2 separate regions of the Homo sapiens genome follow, and region 2 is linked to region 1. Evidence: fine-mapped expression QTL. A gene starts in region 1. The other region holds a variant in brackets. All regions are shown on one strand. Distances are between the middles of the regions.

Region 1 (8,340 bases):
GTTTTCGAGAACCGGTTCAGGTTTAGATTCCTAAACTATAGACAAGACTACAAATTTCATAAAGCTGAGAGCAATTTGCTGGCCATGTTACCGAGGGCTGGTTTCAGAATTCAGCACCAACCCTCTCCATCCATCCTTTCCAGCTTCCAGTCAAGCCAGAAGGAAGGGAATCAGATGGATTCTGTCTCTGTCTCTGTCTCTCTCTCTCTCTTGCCAATGACCTCACTCTAATATAAATAAGACCTTCTTCCTGCACTGTGGGTTCCTTCACTCCCACTGCTGTGTCTCTCCTCCCTACAGCACCTTTCTCAAAAGCAAAACCCCTCCACTTCCCTTCTGAGCCTGTTTGACCTGTTTTCCCTTTCTGCCCCAATCTCACAGGTCTCCCTCAATTCTAAACCCTGCTTCCCTTTTACTGCTCATTTCCCTTGGGTCTTTCTGTCCATCTTCTCTCTTACATATTGTTCACCTTCATCCCCGAGATAATTTAATTCCTTACAGGTAGAGAGCATCGTGGGCAGGAACTCTTACCAACAGACCACTTGCCTTGTTGTCTAGTACTGCACTTACTAGCCACCAAAAAGACTGCTGCTCTTCAGAGCTATAAAACATGCGATGACGTGTAAGAAAGGTCATCTTAAACTCCTAGGGGCTGTCAGCACTCTGCTTGCAGTCTGGCAGGGCTCCCCTCTCTCCTCCTTTCCTCCCAGGATCACAGCCAGTCCACAAAGAGCAAGCCTGAGAAGGAGAGGAAAGGGGTGGGGGAGTGGTGGGTGAGGGGGTTGGAGGAGCTGAGGGGTGGCCAGTAGCGGGAGGAGGCAAGTGAAATGGAAACTCCTGGCCTTGGCTGGCCCAGAACTCGCACTGGCCCAGGTTCAGGAGTCTTGGTGTGCTTGCTGGTGAAGGGGTTTTCTCTGCTGCACTGGCTCCGTGTCCTTCCATACCCTAAAACATATACACACACAAACACACACACACACACACACACACACACACACACACACACACACACACAGAAACATGAGGCGCCGAGAGGACTAGCCAGTGATCTCAGCCTCAAGGACTTTGTACTGCAAGAGCGCTGGCATCTGAATTCCAAGGTCATGCTCCACCTCTACCTGCTGCAAACCCCTTCTGCTGCTTGCATTTCAGTGTTCCTTTTTGTATTAATATAAAGGAGGAGAGTGGATGAGATGTTGTAGCTCTGAAATTCTATGACCAATTGCACAGCAAAAACAACAGCAACTAAAAATGGTGGGTTTTGCTTGTGTGCCTGGAGAGGGAGTGGGGGTGGGCAAGCTTATGTCCTGTTGACTGTCAGCTTCTGAGGGGAGAAGGGATCTGGCAAGAGAGAAGTGCAGCTGTCTTGGCAGAGAGAATGAGAAATGAGAGAATGAGAAAGAGAGGTAACTGCAAGCAATCCTGGTCTTTCAGACACACTCAGTCTACAATCCCCAAACACCCACCTGCCCCCACAGTTTCCCCCCAGACACCCCATTTAACCGCACAAACACATCCAGACGCTGGTTTTTCCTTTCACCATAGTAGTCATAAACTATGCCTCTGTGCTAGTAGCTGGGTGCATTCACTTCTAGAAATCTCTTAGAAGTAAAGTCCCATCCATGTCTGCCCTCCAATCTCAGGCTAGGCCTATGTAGTTTTGAGGGGAGACTAGATTTGCAGGGAAATGAGGAGAGAACACACAACTTGGAGATTTGAAGAGCAAAGGAGACAAGGGCCAAGGAAATCATGGAAGAAGTCTGGAAGGATCTGTCCATTCTCTGGTAATGGTGAACATTCACATAGGGTTTTCCATGTGCCAGACACTGCTTTAAGAGCTTTATCTGTATTAAGTCATTTAATCTTCATAAAAATTCCATGAAGTAGAGACAATTATTATCCCCAATGTTACAGATGAAAACACTAAGATAGAAGTTAACAAGCCCTCTGTGATAGGCAGAAAAATAGCTCCCTAAAGATGTTGATATGGTTTGGCTATGTGCCCCCACCCAAATCTCATCTTGCAGCTCCCATAATTCCCACGTGTTATGGGAGGGATCTGGTGGGAGATGATTGAATCATGGGGGTGGGTCTTTCCCCAACCGTTCTCATGATAGTGGAGAGGTCGCAGGAGATCCGATGGTTTTAAAAACGGCAGTTTCCCTGAACAAGCTGTCTCTTTGCCTGCCGCCATCCACATAAGATGTGACTTGCTTCTCCTTGCCTTCTGCCATGATTGTGAGGCCTCCCCAACCACGTGAAACTGTGAGTCCAATTAAACCTCTTTCTTTTGTAAATTGCCCAGTCTGGGGAATGTCTTTATCTGCAGTGTGAAAATGGATTAATACAGATGTCCAGATCCTAATTCCCAGAATTTGTGATACGCAATGCTACATGGCAAGGGAGAATTAAGGTTGCAGACAGAATGAAGGCTGCTAATTAGCTGACCTTGAGATGGGAAATTATCTAGATTATCTGGATAGGCACAATGTAATCACAAGGTCCTTCTAAGTGAAAGAAGGAAGCAGGAGACTCAAAGAAGGAGATGTGACACAGAAGCAGAGGCTGGAGCCATGAGATTGCTGACTTTGAAGATGAAGGAAAGGGCTGCAAGCCAGGGAATGCGGGAGCCTCTGGAAGCTGGAAAAAGCAAGGAAAATAGATTTGTCCCTAGATCCTGCAAAGAGAAACACATCCCTGCCTACACCTGGATGATAGCCCAGTGAGACCTGTGCTGGACTTCCAGGACCTACAGTCCTGGAAGATAGTAGTAAATCTGTGTTGTTTTAAGCCACTAAATGTGTGAAAATTTATCACAGCAGCCTTAGCAATGAATACACTGCCCAACTTGTAAGCAGAGGATGTGGTGGCTTCAAAGTCCAGGCTTTTTCCCTGCTACTCCTTTCTTTCTTTCCTCCCTCATGCCCAATATCTGTCATCTGTTGATTGGTTAGTAACATTCTCAACGCCTTACTGTTTTATTAAACTTATAAAAACAATGTATTGGTTTAAAAAAAAACAATTCAGTGGTTGTGAAGGTAAGAATCAATAGACAATTTCTCCACCGTTAGCCCCGCCTCTTATAGAAGCACATGCAGCATGTCTTCTTCATACACGAATGTAATGCTAAAGCTGATGCAGTGGCTCAGGCCTGTGATCCCAGCACTTTGGGAGGCCGAGGCGGGAGGATCACTTGAGCCCTGGCGTTCGAGACCAGCCTGGGCAACAAAGTAAAACCCTGTCTCTAACAAAAAATCAAAAAGTTAGCTGGGCGTGGTGGCGGCGCACTTGTGGTCCCAGCCTCTGAGGTGGAAGGATCGCTTGAGCCTGGGAGGTTGAAGCTGCAGTGAGCTGTGATGGCACCACTGCACTCCAGCCTGGGTGGCAGAAGCAGACCCTCCCCCTGGAGGGGAGGGGAGGGGAGGGGAGGGGAGGGGAGGGGAGGGGAGGGGGAAAGAGAGATCCTACTCTCCATTTTAATACAACTTGCTTTTTTAATTAAAAACTATAGCTAGAACCGATAGATTTCACTCGTCCTTAAAAATAGTCCTGTATTATTTTATATAAACATCTCTCGCTATTTATCAAGGCCGTCACTTGTTCAGAAGTATTCTCACTTTTGTTTTGTTTTGTTTTGTTCTTAACAATTTGCTCCCTATATTCCTGGGCTGGCGCCTAGGCCTGCATCCGGGATTTGGCGCCACATCTGCGGGCAGGGCCTCTGAGGTCTAGGGGAGGGACGGCGCCGGCCAAGTCCCGCCCCCGTCCGCGTCGACCAATCAGCTCCCTGGAAGGCCCCTCCTCACCACCCCCCACCCCCGCAGTCTCCGCCTAAGACTTTCCAAGTCCTGTAGTTTCGAGCCCGCTGCCCTTTGCCTCCTGGGCGGAGAAGCTGCTTCCTCCTGGGAACAACCGCCTCCCGCTCCTAGCAGGTTGCTACTGCCCCGAACCCGCGCTGCAGGGAACAGCGGGGCAAACAGTGAGTGGGGTTCAGCGTAGACTCTGGACCAGGAGAGGCCCGCGGTGACCGAGGCCTGGGCCCCGGGTTAGTGTCCGGGGCGGGGAGCGGTGGGCGGGGTGCGACGTTTAGCGTCTGGGGAGGGCCGGGCGTGGATTGCGGCCTCTGCGCGCGCCCCCAGGTGATAGAGCCGTTCCACCGAGGATCCCTTCCTTCGTCTCTACCCCGTTGATGATTTTTCTCTGCAGCTCGGTGCCTATTTCATTCTCGCCGCATTGTTATGCCCTCTGCTGGGCAGGAGGCGATGACCCCCCCTATTTTCGTAGGATTTGTTTTTTGCTCCGCAAGGAGCCATTAAGATCTGAGCTAGCAGGAACCCTCGAGGCGATTTGATCTCGCCAGCTGGGGGCTTGCATTCTTCTAGGCTAGCTTGTCTCCGTTAAGCCCAGGTGGAAGTTCTCATCCACCCCAGTGCTCTAGGCGCCCACGGGCGCAGTGTGGGTTTGTGGTGGGGGAAGGGACCTGGGGAGGGGTGGCGGTGAGAGCGGCGCGGGGATTCAGGCTGAATGTTAGTCTGGAATGCATTTGGCCTGAAGCAGCAAGTGCTGGGTGATACAGTTCCCTGGTAAACAGCCGAGAGCTGGCCGCTAGTTTGGCCCAACCTGCAACGGAAGAAGGCCTTAAGTACAGGAGAAAAAGATCTTTGCCAATTGGATAATCATGGAAATTTAGAAGAAGTACAGCTCGAACTAGACGTAAAGGACAGAATGTGTCTGTCTAGCTGACCAGCCAACCATCGGTCCATCACTTTCATCCTCCAAACTAGTGATTTGTTGATGAATTGGTTTCAATACTTTGTTTTAAAATGTTGAATAAAAAGTAAATGAAATATCTCAGAATGGTCTAAAAAATAATGAAACGAATGCCTGACCATCTCCTTGGGTCAAGAAATAGGGCGTCACAGTACCTTAGAAGCCCATGAGTCCCAACTGATGCCCATGGTCCATTCTCCTCCATTCTCTGAGATGTGACATCTTTCGTGATTTTTGTCTTAATTTAATGAATCCCTTGCTTTTCTTTTTAGTTTTACCATATTTGTGTGTGTATTCCTAAAACATATGTATTGGCTTTCTCATTATAATGACATTATATTAATGACATTATCCTGTACGTATTCTTAAGTTTTATAGATTCATCTTTCATGCTTCCTTCCATTTTCGTTTTCGTCATTTAAGGTGTAAATGTACATAATTTATCCATTCTACTGCTGATGGACATTGGATTGTTTCTACTTTTGGAGGTGTATGATTTATCTATAAGCTATGTAACAAATTACCCCAACACCTAGCAGCTTCAAACCAAAGCGAACAAACAAAACAAGTCCTGTTACCTCCTATCTTACAGTTTCTGTGATCAGGAATCCAGGAGGGGCTTAGCTGGGAGTCTCTGACTCAGGGTCTCTCACAAGCTGTATCAACAATCAAGGTATTGACTGGGCCTCAGTCATCTCAAGGCTAGGCGTAGGGTCGAGGACCTCTCCCAGGCTTACTCACATGACTGCTGGCAGGCCGATTGGCCTCACTGACCCTGGCTGTACACATCAGTTCTTTGCCACATGGGCCTCTGTATAAAGAATGGTTGCAACATGGCAGCTTACTCCCCCCAGAGAGAAGGCTCCCACAGAGAAAAAGAGAAAGACAGAAGTCAGATTCTTTCTGTAACCTCAGAAGCGACATCCCATTATTTTTGCCATTTTATATTCATTAGAAGTGAGTCCCTAGGCCCAACTCACACTGAAGGGAAGGGGGTGACACAAGGACATGAACACCTGGAGGCAGGGATTATCGGGGCCACTTTAAAGCCTGCCCATGTCCTCTAATATTCAAGTACACTTGTGTGGGAGCTTCCCTAGAGTATATAGCTGGGAGTAGAATTGCGGAGTTATAAGATTTATGTGTATTCAATTTTATTGGGTCATTTCTAAACTTTCCAAAGTGTTAAACCAGTTTGCACTCCCTCCAGCAGTGGATGAGCATTCTTGTTGCTCTACATGCTTGCCACAGCTTAGTCTTGTAAAATTACATTTTTTGTCAGTCTGGCAGGTATGAAATAGCATTTAACTGTGATTTTAACTAGCATTTTCCATAACTAATGAGATTGACTTTTTATATGTTGATCAGTGCTTTCTCTTTGTGAAATTCTGATTCCTGTCTCTTTCATTTTTGTATTGGATTGTTTGTTTACCTTTTTTATTGACTCATTGGAATGCTTTCTTTATATAATCTGGGTACGAAGCAGTAATTGTTAGCTATATATGCCACAGACATCTTTCCAATTTGCTTTTGAGGTTTTCTTTCTCTCTATGTCTTTATATCTGTTTCTTTCTCTGTTTCTATCAATGAATCTAAGTTTTGAATTTAATTTCAAGTTAGTAGTACTTTCTTTTATAGCTTTTCTTGTTTGATAATTGTTTTCTCAAGATCATAGATTAATTTTAGTGTATCGTTTTCTAAAAGTGTTATAGTTTTGCCTTTGGCAATTAGTCTTAATCCACATGGAAACTGATTTTTATGTTGTTTATTCCATATGGATAATCTGTTGCCCCAGCACCAGTGATTTGCATGAATCAGGATTTCCATATAAGCATGAATTCGTTTTAAGCCCCCATTCTTATTTTCTATTTGTCTAACTCTGCCTCAATACTAAATAATTTTTAACCACTATAGTTTTATTAAAAGCCTTGAAATTTGGTAGGAAAAGTCCTATCACCTGTTTCTTCTTCTTTAAGAGTGTTTTAGCTTTACTTGGACCTTTGACCTTCCATATAAATATTTAAATAAACTTATCAAGTTCTCCAAAACAAGAAACAAACAAGCAAATAAACCTGTTGGAATTCTGATTGATAATGGATCAACTCTGTGTCTTAGTCTGTTTTGTGCTACCATAGCAGAATACCTGAGACTGAGTAATGTATAAGGAACAAAAATTTATCAGCTCACAGTTCTGGAGGCTGGGAAGTCCAAGATTGAGTGGCTGGCATCTGGCAAGAAAGAGCCTTCTTACTGTGTCATTCCATGGCATAAAGGCAGAGAAAGGCTGAAAGAGAGTGTAAAAGGAGGGTGAATGCCGCCTTTTATAATGAACTCACTCCTACAGTGATGGCATTAATTCATTCACTCTGCTGTCATGACCTGATGGCCTCTCATTAAGCCCACCTCTTAACACCATTGCATTGGGGATTAAGTTTCCAACACCTGCTTTTTGAGGGACACATTCAAACCATTGCACTCTATAAATTATTTTGGGCAGAAATTATTTCTAAGACATTGGCCCTTTTCCTCAATGAACATGGTATATGACACTATTTAAGTCATCTTCAATGTTTTGTACTATTTTTTATTGTTTTCTTTTGGCTCAGTTTTTGTTAAATTTCTAGGCACGTCATATTTTTACTGCTATTGTAAGCATTTTCTTTTGTAAAAGTTATATTTTGTAGTTTATTGTTGCTGGCATACAGAAATTCAGTTGCCTTTTATATATTAATTATATATCAATCAAACTTGAGAAAATTAATAATTCTAAATTTACCTGTAGCTTCTTTCAGATTTGCTACATAGGCAATCATATCATCCGAAAATAATGATAATTTTGTTTATTCGTTTCTAATTCTCATACCTTCAATTTATTTTTTCTGTCTTATGACAATGACTAGGAGCTCCAGTACACTGTTGAATAAAAGTAATAAAGGGCATCTTGTTTTGTCCTTAAGATAATAATGAGAAATATTTCATTATGTCAACTTAAAAATGACATTTGCTATAGTTACTTTGTAAATGTCTTCCCCATCATAAGAAAATTCTGTTCTTCTTTTGGTAAGCACTTTTATTATAAATGGATGTTTTTTCAAATGCTTTTCCTGTAGCTGTTGAGAATATATATACTTTTTTTCCTTTAACTATATTAACAACATAGTAAAGTATAGTATTTAATTTCTGATATTAAACCAATTTTGTATTCTTGGAATAAACCTTTTGTGGTAAATATGTAGTAATTTCTGTATGTGGATATAGATACAAAAGGTAAACATTGGATATTTATATTTATACGTGTGATTTAAGATTGGCATGTAATTATACTTTTCTGTACTATCCTTTTCTGATGCTGGTATTATCATAAAATAATATGAATAGTATTCTCCCTTATGCTATTCTTTGGAAGAATTTGTGCAAGATTGGGATTATCTGGTCCTTGAATATTTCCTTGAATCACCTGTAAAATCATCTGTGTTTGGAGTGTATTTTTTCAGAAGATTTTAATGATTATAGTACTATTTAGGTTTTCCTATGGAGTCAGTTGTAGTAAATTGTATTTTCCAAGATATT
Region 2 (8,340 bases), 53 kb after region 1:
CAAGGCTTCAGTGAGCCATGATGGTGCCACTGCACTCCAGCCTGGGGGACAGAGTGAGACCCTGTCTCTTAAAAAGCAAGAAAAGAAAGAGAAGACTGAGAATAAGAAGATCTCTTTGAAAATAAAATAAGACTGCTAAAAGTATTTGGTATACAGTCTGGAAAATAAAGTTGAGGGAATCTCTCCAGATAAAGAGCAAAAAGAAATAGATAGAAAAATATAAAGAAAGAAAAAAGACATAGACAATCAATATGTAATGTTAGGAGTTCCTGGAAGAGAGAACAGAGACAGTGTAGGTGAAGAAATAAAAAGAAAAAGAATTGAAGAACAGAGCAAGCTAAGTCTCCAGATTGAGAGGGCCCAATACAATCTACATCTAGACACAATATTGTAAAATTTTGGAATATTAAGGATAGAAGGAAGATATTAAAGTGGCCAGGGAGAAAACAAATGAGGTCATCACGATTAGCTCAACACAAAAATGGATGAGAAATAGACTGCTAACAGATTTGTCATCAGCAACACTGAATGCCAGAAGTCAATGGATCAACATCTTCAGAGCTTAAGGAAAATTTTTGTACCTAGAATTTCATAGTAAGGCAGACTGTCAAGAAGAACATCAAAGTGAAGACATTTTCTGTCAGGCAAATTTTCAGAAAGTCTCCTTTGCACCCTTACTGAGGAAGTATCTTGAGGAAATTCTCCAGCAAAATGAGGATGAAAACCAGGAAAGAAGAAGAAATGGGATCCATAAAACAGTGGACCTTACTTAGGATGTCTCATTCTAGAGTGACAGCCAAAAGGGTATCTCACCCTAGAGTGACAGCTATCCAGCAGACTAATTTCAGATGAGAGCATACTGTCTCGGGCTTTCTGGGAAGAATGTGCATTCAGTGCCATAGATAGTATCATTGAAGAGCTGGGATGCTTGAGAAGATTATTTAGTCAAGAAAAAAGAAAGACAAATCAACAATATGTCAAAAAATTCAGGTCCAATTATAGAGCAAAATAAAATGAGGCATGATTTTGAGTTATTCATGAAGAATAAGAAGAGGCTTGATAGGTACATTTCCTTTTCTATGGCACAGGCATGATGATATTGGGTGTGTAGGGAAGAAAATATCCTAGCTTATACTAGGCTCCCAGTAAGAAGTATTTAAATAGCCAAAATAATGTGGATATCATTTATTAGTATTCAATGTTCAGATCAGCCTATTAACAAAGTGTGAAAGGTTTCATTTTTTATTCAGAACTGAAGTTGAAAGTAATTAATGCTGACAAAGGGAAAGAAAGCAGAAAGAGATTGAGAATTAGAGGAAGAGAAGTGGAATCAAAGGTAGAGATACTTATATATTCAAAGTGGGGATGAAAAGATCTTCAGTTAATGGAACAAGAACTAGAGGATTAGTGTATTGTTCAAAGCTATAAAATCAAACCAATAGATGTATTAAAAAGTGATGTAACTATCAGACATTTGGAGAGAGATGGACAAAGGAAAGTGGCGATAGTGTAAGTTAAATCCTTATCTTTTGTAATGGGGAATTATTAAAGATGTTGTAAAGTCAGTAAGTCAAGAAATTATTGCTCAAACATATTATTTAAAGTTAGAAAGTTACCAGACGATCTAAAATAAATATTGTTAAAAGCATTACCTCTAGGGAATGGGATTTAGATTTAAAAAGGGTGGGATGGGAAACTGTGTTTTTCATTTTAAGTCCTTCTGTACTATTTAATTTTTTACCTTGTGCATGTATTACTTTGAAAAAATTTTTAATAAACCCAAATAAAAATCTTCCAGTGACTTCACATTGATTAAGATGCAACCCAGCTAAAGCCTTTAAAATGGTTTTCAAGGTCCTCAAGTATCTAGGTCCACTTGATGTGTCCAGGCTCATGATATCTCCCCACAAGTCTCTATTTCCAACCAGATTAAGTATCTTCCAGTTATTAAAACACACTTCACATTCTTTTGTTTGTATAGGTGTTCCACAAAAAACAAAGCCTACTGCTGATCTCACCATGTCTGCTGAGTAAGCTTACCATCTAGTGGGTTTTAATATTTGTTGAATGAAGGAATGTCCAATACAGCATTGAATGAAGTTTGCCAACTTCATTCTTTTCCAAGAAGGCCTTTGATGTTTGCCCCTGTTCTGGGAAACATTTCAAGAAGGACCATCCAGGGCCCTAAGCTTTCCTGCACTCCCCTTCATTTGACAGCTTTAATAAGTTTTAGTCTTATATGAGGCCAGCTAGTGTCAGAGCATTTCTGTCCATCTGTCAGTCTCCCTGGTGTACTCTTTGCTACTTTCCCTGAACATCGTAACCTCTTTTCAGCTATTTTTAACCCTGTACTTGGGAGAAACAGCCAACTATCTAGTGGAAATCTTTAGGCCACCAAGTTTCTTTTTTTTAAGTTTTATTTTACTTTTAATTGACTCATAATAATTGTACATATTTATAGGGTATAGTGTGATGTTTTGATACACGTATATATTTTGTGATGATCAAATCAGGGTATTTAGCATATTTTTCACCTCAAACATTTATCATCCCTTTGTGGTAAGAACATTCAAAATCCTCTCTTCTAGCTATTTTGAAATATACAATATAATATTGTTAACTATAGTCACCCTACTGTGCAATAGAACACCAGAACTTATTCCTATCTAACTGAACCTTTGTACCTGTTGACCAGTCTATCCCCATCTCCCCTGCCCCACTACCCTCCCAAGCCTCTGGCAACCACTATTCTACGCTCTGCTGCTATTAAATCAACTTTTTAAATTATAGAATCCACTTTTGTGTGAGATTGTACAGTATTCGTCTTTACATGCCTGGCTTATTTTACTTAACATAATGTCCTCTGGGCCCAATTACGTTGCCACAAATGACAAAATTTCTTTTTATGGTTGAATAGTCTTCCATTGTATATATACACCACATTTTCTTTATCCATTCATCCACTGATGGACACTTAGGTTGATTCCATGCAACTACTGTGAATAATGCTGCAATAAACATGGGAATGCAGATATCTCTTCCACATAACTGATTTTATTTCCTTTGGATATATACTCAGTAGTGGGATTCTGGATCATATGGTACTTCTATTTTTTAACTTTTTTAGGAACCTTCATTCTGTTTTCCATCATTGCTGGACTAATTTACAACAGCATATGAGACTTCCTCTTTCTTCACATCTACCCCAACATTTGTTATTTTTTGTCTTTTTGATAATAGCCATTCTAACTGGACTGAGGTGATATGTCATTATGGTTTTATTTGCATTTCCCTGATGATTAGTGATGCTAAGCATTAGTATGTCTTCTTTAGAGAAATGTCTATTTAGGCATTTTGCCCATCTTTAAATGGAATTATTTATTTTTCTGCTATTGAGTTATTTTTCTATATATTCTAGGCATTAACCCCTTGTCAGATGCATAGTTTGCATATGTTTTCTCCCATTCCTTAAGTTAACTTCAATCTGTTTCCTTTGCTGTACAGAAGCATTTTAGTTTAATATAGTACCATTTCTCTATATTTGCTTTTGTTGTATGCTTTTGAGGTCTTATTCAAAAAATTCTTGCCGAGACCAATGTCATGAATTGTTTCTCCCATGTTTTCTTCTAGGATGCTTACAGTTTCAGGTCTTACATTAAAGTTTTTAATCAATTTTGAACTAATTTTTACATATGGTAAGAGACAGGGGTCTAATTTTATTCTTCTACATGTGGATATTCAGTTTTCCCAGTGCCATCTATTGAAAAGCCTCTCCTTTTCCTAATGCATGTTGCTGACACTTTTGTTGAAAATCAGTTGGCTGTAAGTGCATGGATTTATTTCTGTTCTGTATTCTGTTTCAGTTATCTATGTGTCTATTTTTATACCAGTACCATGTTGATTTGGTTACTATAGCTTTATAGTATATTTTAAAGTCAGGTAGTGTGATGCCTCGAGCTTTATTTTTGCTAAGGATTACTTTGGCTATTTGGGGTCTTTTGTGGTTCCATAGAAGTTTTAGGATTTTTTTTTCTATTTCTGTGAAGAATAGGGATTGCATTGAATTAGTAAATTGCTTTGGATAATATGGACATTTTGACAATATTAATTTTTGCAATTCATTATTATCTTTCTATTTATTTGTGTCCTCTTCAATTTATTTTATCCATATTCTATAGTTTCCACTCAAGATGTTTCACCTCCTTTGTTAACTATATTCCTGGGTATTTATTTTATAGCTATTGTCAGTGGATTGCTTTCTTGATATCTTTTTTTAGGTAGCTTGCTACTGGCATATAGAAACACTACTGATTTTTGCATGTTGAGTTTGTATCCTGCAACTTTATTGAATTTATTTATTCTAACAGTTTTTTGTGGAATCTTTAGGATTTTCTATATATAAGATAATGTCATCTGCAAACAAGGACAATTTGACTTCCCCCTTTCCTATTTGGATGCCTTTCATTTCTCTTGCCTAATTGCTCTGGCTTGGATTTCCAGTAGTATGTTCAACAAAAGTGATAAATGCGGCATCCTTGTCTTATTGCAGATCATAGAGGAATAGCTTTCAACTTCTTCAGTATGATGTTATCTATGAGCTTCTCATTTATGGCCTTTATTGTGTTGAGGTATATTACTTCTACATCTCATTTGCTGAGAATTTTTATCATGAAGGGATGTTAAATTTTATCAAATTTTTTTCTTTGTCTATTAAAATGATTATGTCATTTTTGTCCTTCATTCTGTTAATGTGATGTATCACATTTGTGATTTACATATGTTAAACCATCCTTGCATCCCTGGGATGAATCTCACTTGATTGTGGTGAATTATTTTTTCAATATGCTGTTGAATTTGTTTCACTTATATTTTGTTAAAGATTTTTGCATCTATGTTGATAAAGGAGATTGGCCTGTAGTTTTCTTTTTATCAAGTTATCCTTGTCTGGTTTTGATAATGTTGGCCTCATAGAATGAGTGTGGAAGAATTTGCACCTCTTCAACTTTTTAGAATAGTTTGAAAAGAAGTGATATTATTATTTACATGTTTGGTAGAACTTAGCAGTAAAGTCATCAGTTCCTGGGCTTTTCTTTGACGGGAGACTTATTATTACTGATTCATTCTTGTTACACATTATTGGCCTGTGTAGGTATTTTATTTCTTCATAGTAGTTCAA[C/T]TTTGGTAGGTTGCATGTGTCCAGGAATTTATTTATTTCTTTTAGGTTTTCCAGTTTATTGGCATATAATTGCTCATAAAAGTCTTCTATGATCCTTTGTATTTCTGTGACATCTCCTTTTTTAGCTCTGATTATATTTATTTGAGTCTTCTCTTTTTTGTTAGTCTAGCTAAAACATTTGTTTATCTTTCAAAGGACCAACTTTTTGTTCTACTGATTTTTATATTATTTTCAGGCTCTATTTCACTTATTTCTGCTTGATCTTTATCAGTCTTCTCTTCTAGTAGTTTAGGGTTCAGCTGGCCCTCGTTTTTCTCATTCCTTGAGGTGCCACATAAAGTTTTTATAAAAGATTCTTATACTTTTTTGATGTAGGCATCTATTGCTATAAACTCCCTCTTAGAATAGCTTTTGCTGTATCCCATAGGTCTTGGTACATTATGTTTCCTTTTATTTGTCTCAAGGAATTTTTAAATTTTCTTTTTAATTTCTTTATTGATGCCCTGGTTTTGTAAAAACTTGTTTTTAGTTTTCACATATTCGTATATGTTCCATAGTTCCTCTTGGTATTCATTTCTAGTTTTTATTGCATTGTGGTAAGAGAAGATACTTGATAAGATTTTGATTTTTTTGATTGCTTGAGATATGTTTTGTGGACTAACATATATTCTATCGTGGAGAAAAGTTCCATGTGCTGTTGAGCAAAATGTACATTCAGTAGTTATTGAGGGGAATGTTTTATAAATATCTGCTGGGGCTATTTGGTCTAGAATGTAATTTAAATCTGATAATTCTTTGTTGATTTTCTATCTAGATGATCCATCCATTGCTGAAAGAGGGTGCTAAAGTCCTTTTTTATTTTATTTTAATTTTTCTCTCCCTTTAGATCTCATAATATTTGCTTTATATATTTACTTTATATATTGGGTGTTCTGGTGTTGTGTGCTCATATACTGACAACTGTCCTAACCTTCTGCTGAACTGATTTCTTTATCTTTCTTTATATAATGACCTTCTTTTCTCTTTTGACAGTTTTTTACTTAAAGTCTATTTTGTCTGATGTAAGTATTACTACCCCTGCTTTGTTTTGGTTTCCATTTTCACAGAATTTCATTTTCTCTTCTTTCACTTCAGTCTATGTGTGGCCTTATAGGTGAAGTGCCTATCTGGTAGGCAGCATGTTGCTGAATCTTGTTTTTTTTTTTTTTTAATTTAATCCATTCAGCCACGGCGTATGTTTTAATTGGGAATTTATTTCATTTACATTCAAAGTTATTATTGATAGGTAAGGACTTCTGCCATTTTGTTCATTATTTTCTGGTTGTTTTGTTTATCCTTTGTTCCTTTCTTCCTCTCTCATGTTTATCTCTGTGGCTTGATTAGGGTATTTGTTGTGTTAAGCTTTGATTCCTTTCTCTTTCTCATTTGTATATCTGTTGTAATTTTTTCTTTGTGATTAGTATTGGGGTTACATTAAAAATCTCTCATACTTATAATAGACTATTTTAAGCTGATAACAAGTTAACTTTCATTGCATACCAATACTCTAGACTTTCATTCTGCACCCAAATTTATAATTTTGTTGCTTTAATATACATCTTTATATATTGTTTATTCCTTAACAACTTATCATTGCTATAATCATTATTACAATTTTCACTTTTTGGCATCCCACAGAGCTGCATTTTTTTAATTATTATTATTTTTTAAATGGGGTCTCATTATGTTGCCCAGGTTGGACTCAAACCCCTGGGCTCAAATGAGCCTTCCATTTCAGCCTCCTAAATAACTGGGACTACAAGCACATGCCACAGCACCCAGCTGTTTTGGCCTTTAACCTTCATACTAGAGGTTTGAAACATTACATATCACCATTGCAGTAATGAAGCATTATGAATTTGATAATGCATTTATCTCCAGCAGTGAGATTTATACTTCATGTTTTTTTATGGTAGCAATTATCATGAAAACTTTTTTTTCCAATAGAAATACTCAAGCATTTCTTGTAAGTCTGGTCCAGTGGTAATGAGTTCCCTCAACTTTTGCTGATCTGGGAAAGACTATTTCTCCTTCATTTCTGAAGCAAAGATTTGCTGGTATAGTATTCTAGGCTAGCAGCTTTTTTTCTTCTAGTATTTTAAATATATCATCCCATTCTCTCCTGGCCTGCAAGGTTGCTGCTGGGAAATCTGCTAATAGTCCAATGGCAATTCCCTTATATGTGACTTGATGTTTTTCTCATGCTGCTTTTAGTATTTTTTTCTTTGTCTTTGACTTTTGACAGTTTGGTTATATGCCTCAGAGAGGACCTCTTTGAGTTGAATCTTTGTGGGATCCTTTGAACTTCATGGATCTGGATGTCCATATCTCCCCAAGACTTGGGAAGTTTTCAACTATTACTTTGTTAAATAAGCTTTCTTTGCCTTTCTTCATCTCTTCTTCTTAAGTTGCCAAAATGCAAACATTTGTTCACTTATGGTGTCCCATAAATGCCATAGGCTTCTTCATTCCTTTTTTTTTTTCTTTACCTCTGACTGGACTATTTCAAAAGGCCTGTTTTCAAGTTCAAAAATTCTTCTGTTTGATCTATTTTGCTGTTGAAGCTCTCAATTGCGTTTTTTTATTTCATTCATTGAATTTCTTGGCCCCAAGATTTCTATTTTGTTCTTTTTTATGATATCTCTCTCTTTGTTGAATTTCTCATTCAGATCATGAACTGTTTTTCCCGATTGTTGAATGATCCGTTTGTGTTCTTTCATGTCTCACCAAGTTTCCTTAGGCTCACTATCTTGAATTCCTTTTCAGGCAATTCATAAATTTTTATTTTTTTATTGGGGTCAGTTACTAGAGAATTATTGTGTTTCTTTGGTGGTGTCATGTTCCCTTGCTTTTTTATGTTTCTTGTATCCCTGCACTGGCATCTGTGCATCTGATGGAATAATCACCTTTTCTAACTTGGTAGCATAACTTTCAGCGGAAAAGACTTACACCTGCAGATGTGTCCTAGCATGTTGGTTGGGTAAGGTACATTTGTTTTTGTTCTGGGTGGATGCAGTAGTGTAGTCTCCATGCAGCTTCTTTAGCTGTAGTTAATGTCAGTGGTGCCTGCAAGTACCTCAGTGGCCTTGGCTGCAGAAGTTTGTGTGGCTGGTATGCCCACTCAG

Direction of the effects. Alleles are on the strand shown, and positions count from the first base shown. SD is a standard deviation of normalised expression in the study named.
For the expression in cerebellum of the gene that starts at base 3,830 in region 1, allele C in region 2 goes with a higher level than allele T (moderate effect, 0.51 SD a copy in GTEx).

What was found. PIP is the estimated chance that this variant, and not a neighbour inherited with it, causes the effect.
Region 2: its variant is fine-mapped to the expression of TCAF1 in cerebellum (GTEx, PIP 0.95). The same link has a PIP of 0.9 or more in esophagus muscle.

What each region holds. Positions count from the first base shown.
Region 1 is chr7:143,897,666-143,906,005 of GRCh38, reverse strand. TCAF1 (TRPM8 channel associated factor 1) reads left to right here and starts at 3,830. Exons shown (of 9, transcript NM_014719.3): 1 at 3,830-4,045. It overlaps LOC105375549 (a long non-coding RNA gene), which reads right to left. Exons shown (of 3, transcript XR_007060574.1): 3 at 4,053-8,340. RefSeq lists enhancers at 1-257, 4,600-4,649, 4,325-4,862 and a silencer at 3,670-3,809.
Region 2 is chr7:143,844,829-143,853,168 of GRCh38, reverse strand. It overlaps TCAF1 (TRPM8 channel associated factor 1), which reads left to right. Exons shown (of 9, transcript NM_014719.3): 9 at 1-1,794. The region is part of intron 2 of LOC112267988 (a long non-coding RNA gene); the gene reads right to left. Among named protein-coding and RNA genes, the nearest start is that of TCAF1, 53 kb to the left of the region's middle. The variant C/T (reference allele first, on the strand shown) is at 5,177.